2 separate regions of the Homo sapiens genome follow, and region 1 is linked to region 2. Evidence: fine-mapped expression QTL. A gene starts in region 2. The other region holds a variant in brackets. All regions are shown on one strand. Distances are between the middles of the regions. Region 1 has its middle 73 kb from the start of MAPK10. Region 2 holds the start of PTPN13 (protein tyrosine phosphatase non-receptor type 13).

The links. PIP is the estimated chance that this variant, and not a neighbour inherited with it, causes the effect. A credible set is the group of variants that fine-mapping cannot tell apart.
Region 1: its variant is the best candidate, but not a certain one, in a credible set for the expression of PTPN13 in whole blood (INTERVAL, PIP 0.76).

The regions. Positions count from the first base shown.
Region 1 is chr4:86,430,162-86,435,544 of GRCh38, forward strand. It overlaps a transcript of MAPK10 not described here. Among named protein-coding and RNA genes, the nearest start is that of MAPK10, 73 kb to the left of the region's middle. RefSeq lists an enhancer at 2,492-3,034. The variant CT/C (reference allele first, on the strand shown) is at 3,394.
Region 2 is chr4:86,591,118-86,596,500 of GRCh38, forward strand. It overlaps PTPN13 (protein tyrosine phosphatase non-receptor type 13), which reads left to right and starts at 3,198. Exons shown (of 48, transcript NM_080683.3): 1 at 3,198-3,672. It also overlaps a transcript of MAPK10 not described here. RefSeq lists an enhancer at 2,849-3,435.

The DNA.
Region 1 (5,383 bases), 160 kb before region 2:
TACGTACCCATGTAGATTCCTGGTCATATGAAAGAATACTCAAGAATAATTATTGATTGAAAATCCAACATTCTATAAGAAGAGAAGGAAGAATAAAACAAACATAAAACTGGTCCATGTTATTAAATGTATCAATGGTTTTCATTTTCTACAGCATAAAGTATGAATTCATTGGCACGGTACTAAAGTCTTTGTCTACCGCCCAACTCTCAAGTCTTTTTCTTTCCTTCAACCAATATATTTTAAACAATTATTTACCAAGTATCCATTGTGTGTTTGGCCCTTTGGTAGGTGCTAGAAATACAAAAGGAGAGAGAGAGAATTCCTGACAGCGCAAAGTTTAGACATTGGCAGGAGATACCGATATTTAAATAAACGAGTAGTTATATACCATAGAGTTGGGTCAAGAGCTATGAAGGCTATTATAGGATTGCAAGAAAGGCATATAATCTAAGGAGTACAAAAATTGTCTCTACAAAAGCGCCATTTAAGCTAAGACCTAAAGAACAAAAAATTGTCCAGTCAAAATTATAGGTGAATGAAGAGGTGTGGCAGTACATGTGAAGGCCCTGAGAGGAAAGGGGACTGGCACATTAGAGGAAAAGGGAAAAAACGTCACGATACAGAAAGTGGCTGCAAACGAGGCTACAGAGGTAGATGGGGCGCCAGATCAGAGAAGTCTTGTAAGTCAATATAGGACCTTACCCTGAGAACAACGGAAAAACCATTGAAATATTTGAGGCAGTTGTGTGAAATATTCGTATGCTTTTCAAAAATTATTCTGGCTGTTTATATGGGGAAAAAACTGACAGAAACAGGAATAAAAGCCAGGCTATTATTATAAGAAGGCTATTGCAATGGCTTAGGCTAGAAAAGATGGTAGAAAAGAAGGAAAGGAGCAAGAAAGAGAAGGAGAGAGAGAGGAAGAGAGGAAAGGAGGAAGAAAAGAGAAAGAAAAGAAAAAAGAAAAGGAAGATAACCTTTTAACAGTTTCAAGTCAAATGACAATTAAGAAAAAATATTTTACACTCATACCAGGCAAAGAGCTAATTCCAATAATATATAAAGAACTTCTATACATCAATAAGACTAACAAATCAATTTTTAAAATGGGAACAAATAAACAGTTTAATAAAAAGGATATATAAACGTTATAAACATGAAAAGATATTCATGACAAGAGAATTAAACATTAAAATGACTGATATTTTTCACTTAAAATATTGACAACATTGAGGGTCCAAGTGAATGCCAGTTTGGCAGTTTAGACAAGTGTCATCTGACAAAACAGAATTTCTACAAAATATTTTATATTATATTCATGGAAATTCACATTGTATTCTCCCATAAAATACATACAAAATCCTAAATATAGAAATAGTATTTAATTTGGCTTAACCCAGTGTTGCAGGTATCAACTAAATTAGAAAGAGGAGCTTTACTCCTTGTTAAAGTTTGCAGCCAGCAGAGTGGCCATTCTGACAGGCTGGTCAGCGTAGCCTTTGGTCAGAAGCTAGAAACAAGCACTTCAAGGGAGGAGTAAAGGAAACAGGAATTTATGCTGAGCAGGATGGCCAAATATACATATTTACTAAGCTATAGGAAGAGTCGTGTTATGAAAAGAGAAACATGTGCATTCGCATTGAGCTTCATGCCTCTCCATGGGACCCGTGTTTAAAAAAATGGCAATATTAGCATGATCCGAGGGTGGAGTTTTCAGCCCTATGATGTCAAAAGGTGAAGCAGAGGACATGAAAACTCTCTCTGTGTATCCTCCTTACACTGCCCAGAACCACTTCATGGACAGCGGTCTTTTATTAGGAAGGAATGCTGGTCAGATGTTTTGTTGAAATCCAAAAGGAGAGGCAGCATCAGGCAGTGGGTTGATGTCAATGGCAGAGTCTTTTTAAAAAGCTGATTTCTGTGTAGCCCCTAGAGAAGAAAGCCTAATGGTGGTTAGCTAGCCAGGAGGGTCTAATGAGATGGGTCCAACCTCCCATCCCATTTTCACTGGGAACTCAGTTTTCAAGGTTTTTCTGGGGTCCCCTGGGCCAAGAAGAGGCCCATTCAGTCAGTTGGGGGCATAAGAATTGTTTTTTGCTTGTTTGTTTGTTTTGTTTTGTTTTGTTTGGAGATGGAATCTTGCCCTGTCACTGAGGCTGGAGTGCAGTGGTGTAATCTCCACTCACTGCAACCTCCATCTCCTGGGTTCAAGTGATTCTGGTGCCTCAGCCTTCCCAGTAGCTGGGACTACAGGTGCACACCAGGACGCCCAGCTAATTTTATTTTTGTATTTTTGGTAGAGACTGGGTTTCACCACGTTGGCTACGTTGGTCTCAAACACCAGACCTCAGGTGATCTGCCTGCCTCGGCCTCCCAAAGTCCTGGGATTACAGGCATGAGCTACCATGCCCAGCCAGGATTTCATTTTTGTTTCTCACAAATTGGGTCTTCAGAAAACAGACTCTAAGATGGAGATTTCCATGCAGGAACTTCATTAGGGAGTGGCCTAAGGGCTGGATCCAATGATAGGACTTGTTACAGAACTGCACTCACTACTTGTAGTGGGAATGAGAGGAGCCCAAAACAACAAAGCCAGGTGGTGGCAATCAATCCTCAGTGGCAAGATAGGCACAGTTACCATAATGGGCAACAAGGGCAGATGGCTTGACTCACAGGGATCAATGGAGATGGCAAACAAAGCATAAAGTTCTTCTGGGAAAGAGAAATAGGCAGCCAACAAGAATAATCCTTAATTTGCATAACCAAAGGCCATCTAGCCAGCTCATACCTGTGGGAGGGAGGAAGTAGAACAAAGGGTAAAAGCTGAAGATAATGAGTACTAATTATGGTCTCAGGATCAACTGTAGCAACAGGGGCTGTAGTTTGTCCCACTAACCCTCCTCTTGTAGATTTTTCCAGAAATTGTAACCAGCCAGAATTCTGGAGAAACCACACTTGTACAGAGGGAGGTTAATATGAGAAGCAAGTGGATTTCAGCAGTGCAAGGAGCAAGCTGCATCAGGCACTGTTGATGCCCCCTACCTACATCCCTTTACTCCATTGATGCCCACATTTGCCCCCTTTCTTTTGGTAATTGCCCTTGGACAACAGGAGCTGCCTCCCCAACCCCCATGCTGCAGGCCCCACTCTGAGGTTTTAGGCCCTCCAGGACCCCCAGCTGGAGCCAACCTGCAGCTAATACCAAAATACAAAAGGTTGGACTCCTTTCCTGAAGGCATGATCAACTTTTTGGTGCAATTAATACTCTAGAACTCCCTGTGGAATTATCCTGAAACTAGATTTCAACTGAGATCACATTCTTGCTTAACTTTTTTCCTCCCTCCTATGTGTGGTCCAGGATCAAAATATTATCACAGTCTGGGCCTTCTT[CT/C]TTTTTTTTTTTTTTTTTTTTTTTGTCTTATAGAGATGGAGTCTCACCATGTTGCCCAGGCTGGTCTCAAACTCCTGGGCTCAAGTGATCCTCCCACCTCAGCCTCCCAAGCTGCTGGGAATACAGGCATGAACTATCGCACCCAGCCTAGGCCTTCTTTAAAAACTGCTGGACCACGACTAGGCCGAGCTGTGCCCAGTCCAAGGCTCTAGTTCAAGGGAGCATTGAAGGAGGAAGGTTGACCCTTCAAGTCATCTAAATTAGTGTTTTTCAGCTGAACCTCATGACACATGAATGAGCCATGAAATCAATTTAGGGAGCTACCACTCCCATTTCTTAAACAAAATGTAACAAATTACAATAGAATAGAAACTCTCCACACGTATCACATGGAGAAAAGCGTTTTTTCCATTGAAACTTTATTTCCACTATATATATGCAAGTTGATGTGTATGTATGTGACTCAGAATATAGAGTCATGATGTAAAATATATATTTGACATTGAGTTGTAGTCAATAAACTTTAACGCCATGAATCTAAACAGAAAAGAAATGGTGACAAAGGTACCAAGAACATGCAGTGGGGAAAGGACAGTCTTTTCAATAGACGATACTGGGAAAACTGGAGAACTATATGCAGAAAAATGAAACTAGACCCCCTATCATGCACCATTGGTCTGGGCAAAGAGTTTTTGTATAAGACCTAGAAAGCATGAGCAACCAAAGTAAAAATGGACAAATGGGATCACATTAAGCTAAAAAGCTTCTGCACAGCAAAGGAAACAATCAAGTGAAGAGACAACCCACAGAATGGGAGAAAACATTTGCAAACTATCCATCTGACAAGGGATTAATAACAAGAATATGTACAGAACTCAAACAACTCTGTAGCATAAAAACAAATAACCAATTTAAACATGTGCCAAAGATCTGAACAGACATTTCTCAAAAGAAGGTATACAAATGGCCAACAGGTATATAAAAAACCTGCTCAACGTAAGTAACCATCAAAGAAATACAAATCAAAACCACAATGAAATGTCATCTCACACCAGTTAAAAGGCTTGTATCAAAAGGACAGGCAATAACAGTTGCTGGCAAGGATGTGGAGAAAGGGGAAACCTCGTACGCTGTTGATGAGAATGTAAATTAGTACAGCCACTATGGAGGACAGTAGGAAGGTTCCTCAAAAAACAAAAAATAGAACTACCATATGATGCAGCGGTCCCATTGCTGGGTATGTAGCCAAAAGAAAGGCAATCAGTGTATTGAAGAGACATCTGTACTCCTACGATTATTGCAGCACTATTCACAATAACCAAACATGGGATCAACCTGTGTCTGTCAATGAATGAGTGGATAAATAAAATATGATCTATATACACAATGGAATATTGCTCAGACATAAAGAAGAATGATATCTGATCATTTGCAGCAACATGGACGAAACTGGAGGTCATTACATTAAGTGAAATAAGCCAACCACAGAAAGACAAATATCACATTCATATGCGGGATCTTAAAAAGTGAATCTCATGAAGATAGAGAGTAGATTGGTGCTTACCAGAGGCCAGGAAGGGGCCAGGGGATGAAAGGGAAAAAAAGAATATAAAGGTAGTTATAACTGCTGAACTGTCCACTTAAAAATGGCAAAGATGAGGCCAGGCGCAGTGGCTCATACCTGTAATCCCAGCACTTTGGGAGGCTGAGGCGGGCGGATTACCTGAGGTCAGGAGTTCGAGACCAGCCTGACCAATATGATGAAACCCAGTCTCTACTAAAAATACAAAAATTTACCGGGCATCGTGGCAGGCGCCTGTGATCCCAGCTACTCAGGAGGCTGAGACAGTATAATTGCTTAAATCCAGGAGGCAGAGGTTGCAGTGAGCCGAGATCACACCATTGCACTCCAGCCTGGGCAACAAGAGCAAAACGCCATCTCACAAAAAAAAAGGCAAAGATGGTAAATTTTATATGTATATTTTACCT
Region 2 (5,383 bases):
CTTGCTATGTTACCCAGGCTGGTCTTGAATTCCCAGGCTCAAACAGCCCTCCTGCCTTGGCCTTCTAAAGTGCTAGGATTACAGGCGTGAGCCACCATGCCCAGCCAGTTTTATAAATTTATTTTAGTGTTTATTTTTAGCTACTTAAATTTCTGTGGCTACTGTAAGTGGGATGGATTCTTTTTATATTGTATTTTCAAATTGGTTATGATAATACATGAGAAAGCTCTTGATTTTCATATGTTTTTTTATTATTATTATTATTGTTATTTTTGAGACAGGATCTCACTCTGTTGCCCAGGCTGTAGTGCAGTGGTGGGATCATGGCTCACTTCAGCCTCGACATCCTGGCCTCAAGCAATCCTCCCACCTCAGCCTCCAGAGTACCTGGGACTACAGGTGCATCCCACCATGCTTGGCTAACTTTTTTATTGTTTGTAGAGAAAGGGTTTCACCATGTTGCCCAGACTGGTATTGAACTCCTGGACTCAAGTGATCTGTCCACTTCAGCCTCCCAGAGTGTTGGCATTACAGGCATAAGCCACTGTGCCCCACCCCCCGTATGTTAATTTTATAACTAGTTATCTTAATTTATCTTTTATTGCCTCTAAAAGCTTTTCAGTTGATGCTTTGGAGTTTTCATATTATTTGCAAACAAATGACAACCCTGACTTATTTACAGTACTTAATTTCTTATTTCTATTTTATATCTAATTGCATTGGCTATCGTTTCTATTGTTACAATGTGATGGTGAACATTCTTGCCTTGTACTTGACTTCAATAGGAATAATTATGATGTTATGTTATAAAGGAAGTGGCTGGCTTTAGTATAACATATATATATATTTAAATTATTACAAATTCTAATTTTTATTGGGAATGATGCTGGACTTTACAAAATCCTTTTCAGCATCAACTGAGATCCTCATAATGTTTTCCTCCTTTGACTTACTAATATAATCAAGCATATGAGAAAATTTTCTGTTATTGAACTATTGCCATAACTATACACATGAAATAATTTCTCTTAATTTTGTTATATTATTTGTAATGTAGTGCTGGGTTCCATTTGTTAGTATTGACTTTTACATTATATCCAAAAGGAATTTAACCTGTAGATTTCCCTTGTGTGTACTTTTTAACAGATTGTATTTTAAAACCAGTCTTTCAGCTCATCCAAAACAGAGGGATTACTGGTGAAAATGCCTTGAGGGCAACCACCTGAAATGGCCTTAATAAAAAAAAAAACACGAAGAAGAAAAAGAAAAGGAAAAAAGCTAACAACACTGTGGTTTGTCTACTTTTGCGGAAATTTACAACACTATACTTGCTATACCTTCTTTCTGATGTGAATCCACAAGCTATTGCAGCCATTAATTAAGGATATTGCTTTTCTTTCCAATAAATACATGAACTTTCTTTCAGAGGCAAACAGAGACAGATGTTTCATGAAAGTTTCTGTTCTTCCCAACCTGCCTTTCCTACCTCCCTGATAGATGATCCAGAACATTTAAAAATGGGGGAAGAACTGAGAAAAGGGCTCCAATCATCCACTTGTGTTTCCCATCCAAGGAGCCTGGCCTGTTATTTACTTTCACCACTTATCCCTGCTGCTGCTGTTTAGTTTTTGTTGTTCCCCTCAACTGACTTTCCTCATCTTTGCTGCATTCATCAAAGCCCAGTGTAAATTCCCCTCTTCCATAAACTGAGGAATCCAGCCCATTTTACATAGCAAACTTTCTCTTAGCTGCTACCTACTCAAAGTTTGGCTGCACATTTTAGCTATAATTGTTCTCAAATTGTTTCAAGAGTGCTAGTTTTCTTTCTTAGGCTCCAGGTTAGCTCCTTGGGAGCGGGGACTTAGCTTAAAATCCTGCTGTGTATTTTCCGTTGTGTTTAGCCCTATGAGTAATCACATTCAATGCATACTTGTAAGGCATATTTGACTGAAGATATCTATCATAGTTATTCATTTAGTAAATGATATAATGAAAACTCAAGTGCTCGCCAAAGATAAATCATTACTATTAATTCCCTCATTCATCATACATGTATGGCAGCCTCAGGGGCTAGGGAACCTAGGATTGCTGCTTTGACTTTTTTTGGGGAAGCCAAATAAGCCTCAGATCTCTCCACTTTGGAGCCAGCCATGAAATTCAGATTTACCTAGGGCTCAACATTAAGGGTCTCAGACTAAATTTATCTTCAGGTACCCTTTCCAGAGTGGACCAGTTTACCTTATACCTCTGAGAATAACCCAAAACTTTCAAAACTCAAATCACAGGATATTATTTGTTCATGAATTCAGCAAGACTCTCTTGTTTAACTATTGAAACTCAAATATTTCGGCTTGCAGCAAGGAGGGGTACAGCTGTCTGGATATACCTTGGCCAAATTTCAGTGTATATAGAAAAGTGGGAGGTTATCGACTATGTTAAACCTTTTCCTTAAATTTTCAAACTTCGGGATTATTTTAGTCTCATAGATAAAATAACAAGGCAAGTATTTACAAACTTTTTTCAAAAATATGAGAATTTCAGTTTTCCCTAGGGCATTTGGCGTTGTGCTGTCACCACACTTTTGAAGATAGCTTTACAACCGTGGGAAAACTCACCGGGCTTTTTTCGTTGACCCCGCCATTTCTAAGTTGCTATATTGCTGCAAGGAGCTGGCAAAGCCATGCTCTTCCTCTCCCCCATTCTCCTCTTCCTTTCAAAGACCAAAGCGCCCCGTGAGAATATAGAAACAAGGCTGAGAGGCAGCGAAGAGTAAGGGAGGAGCCAGCACTTACGCATTTTTCACTCTCCTCCTCACTCCCTAGGGTCATAGTTTTGATTCTGAAGTTAGAAGTGTGGGGGTCGTCGGCTGCATTTTCAACTTGGCCTAAAAGTTGGAGTTCACCACACTGCAGGCGCTAGGAACTCTGCCGCTCGGTCACCAACCTGAGCCTCTGGCTAGTCCGAAGAACGCGAAAAGCCAGGCCCAAGGCACTGGTTGTCATGGCAACCGGGGCGCTGGTCTCCCTGGCGACCTCGTCCCTAGGGAGGAGGTGGAGCTGGATGCCAGGCGGGCCAATGAGGTCGAGGGGAGCTCGGGGTGGGAGATCTGCGGTCCTCCCAGTGCCGGGGAATGGTTGAGTGACAGGACCGGGGGGGCGGAGCCGGCGCGGCTGCCCGAGGTGGAGCCCCAGTGGTGCGAGTAGCTCCAGCGGCCACGCTGAGGCGAGGGTGACACACCATGCTCACGGCCCCTGGAGACCGTCGTGCTGGCGAGCCGTGCTCCGTAGCTCCCCGGTCCGCCTCGGCAGCGGTCAGAGTCGCCTACAGGAGTTGAGCCGCCCGCGCCAGAAGGTTTTGGCGAAGCTCTTGGAGAGGCGTCGAGCACAGTAGGGCGGCGGGGGTGCGTTGAGCGCTCGGGGGTCAGGCAGTCGGCCGGGATCGCCGCTGGGGAGCGTTTCCGAGGCGAGGAGGAGGAGGAGGAGATGCTGCTCCTCTTCTCCCCCTCCCCAGGCTCCTTCTACAGCTCCTTCAGCCCACGCCCGCAGCCGCTTGTGGGAGAAGTGGTGGTGGCTCTCGGCGCCCGCGGCGGCTGCCGGCGGCCCGCCCCGACGCCGCGTCCCTGCAGCCCTCGCCCGGCGCTCCAGTAGCAGGACCCGGTCTCGGGACCAGCCGGTAAGGACGAGAGCCGCCCTGGGCTCTGCGCTGCATGTGCAGAAGTGCAAAACAAAGTACATTGCGCTCGTTCTCTTCCTCCTCTCTCTGCTTTCGCTCCAGTCCCTAAACCCAACTCCTCGGTTGCCCTGGTAGAAGGAACTTTTCTTTGGTTTTGGTGGTGGGTGTTTTTGTACGTTAGAGTGGGGGTGGGGTGACTGGAGTGGGGAAGAATGAGATGAAACTCCATTGCTAATTAGGTAGATCCATCTCCTCTGCGGAAGAAAGCCGGATTCTCGGGAATGAAACCCACAGGGGGAGTAAGAGATTGTGGGGTAATAGGGAGTGACATTGCCCCGTCGTGCTTGCACAGCTCCGCTCTGTGCGTGCTTAAGGGAAGGGCTCCCGGAGTCTGTTTCTAATTTCTGCAAATGATTGTGGAGATGGTGTGGTTAGAGGCCGCCCAGAAGAATGTGTGTGTAAGGGCTCGAGAAGGGGGTGGGATGGCGGGGAAGCAGAGGAAGAGGGGGCAGAGGGAGAGACACTGTCTGATGCAAGGTCTTTTATTGCTTTTCTTCTGCTTGCTAAAGTTAACACTCTACCCTCCGGCCCCCTAGCCCCACCGCTTTGCTCATTACGTGATACTGTAAGAGCAGACAGCTGGGAAGCTAAAGTTAAACCAAAGTCAAGAAAATTCTTACAAAGTTTAATTTCCTTCTGTTGTGAATATAATGGAGAGAGGAGGATGGGGAGAAATATCACTAAGAGATTTACAGCAATACAGTTTTCATTGGCCATACACGTATATGATCGACACCACCGCACACTTCCAACTAATCTGTTCGACAGCCTTGTGTCATTTTCATTTAATTGCATCTTTGAAACAACAAACGCGGTGACTTCATAGGGAGCTGCCTGGAGCTGAGCTCCCTCGCAGAAAATGGGGCAATCGGGTTTGTTTTCAAGGCAGGACCTGAACAAAATGTAGGACACCTGATCTGTGGGATGAAGGGCGCTGGTAACTAATTATAAATTTTAAGATTTTAAAATTTATATCTAGAAAGTTTACTAAAGGATGGGGGGGGGAGTAAAAGTGCATGTATTATGAAACAAGCTTAGGTATTTTCCTAAAGTCTTCATGACTGTGTTGGCAGGGTCCAGGTGAAAACTTGCTTCATGCTCATTGGCTGCTTGTAGTGGTGCCAATATACAAATTATTTCTCGTTTTAATATCACTAGGAGCATTTGTTAGTAAATTCATACATATATTGATTTAGTAAATTTATACAGAGGCGCACTGACTGACGTCCAATCTTGTTTATTATACTTTGTTCATAACATTGTGTTCTACTTGATGTTCTAGAGGCTTTGTGGGAGTATGTGTGGGGAGAGGATAGGATGGAAATTAGAACTAAAAACAGAAAAATATTTGAGGTTAGTTGTTAAGAAAAGGACTGATTTCATAGTGTTTTTCACTTTTACAATTAGAGAATGATAGCTTGCTTTACCATTATGTAGGTTTATCTTTGAATTTGCATTTGTCCCACCATTTTTACTTGCATGTAAAGCCTAGTTATATTTTGGAGGGTGATTACCAGCATCCAAAAATATAAATGGCTTTTCATGTCACAAGTAACATACACGCACACCATTAAAACCAGTGTCAATTTAAAAGTCAGATTTTAATTCTATGATGGGGTCACGTTATAAAACTTAGGTCATCTTTTTGTTG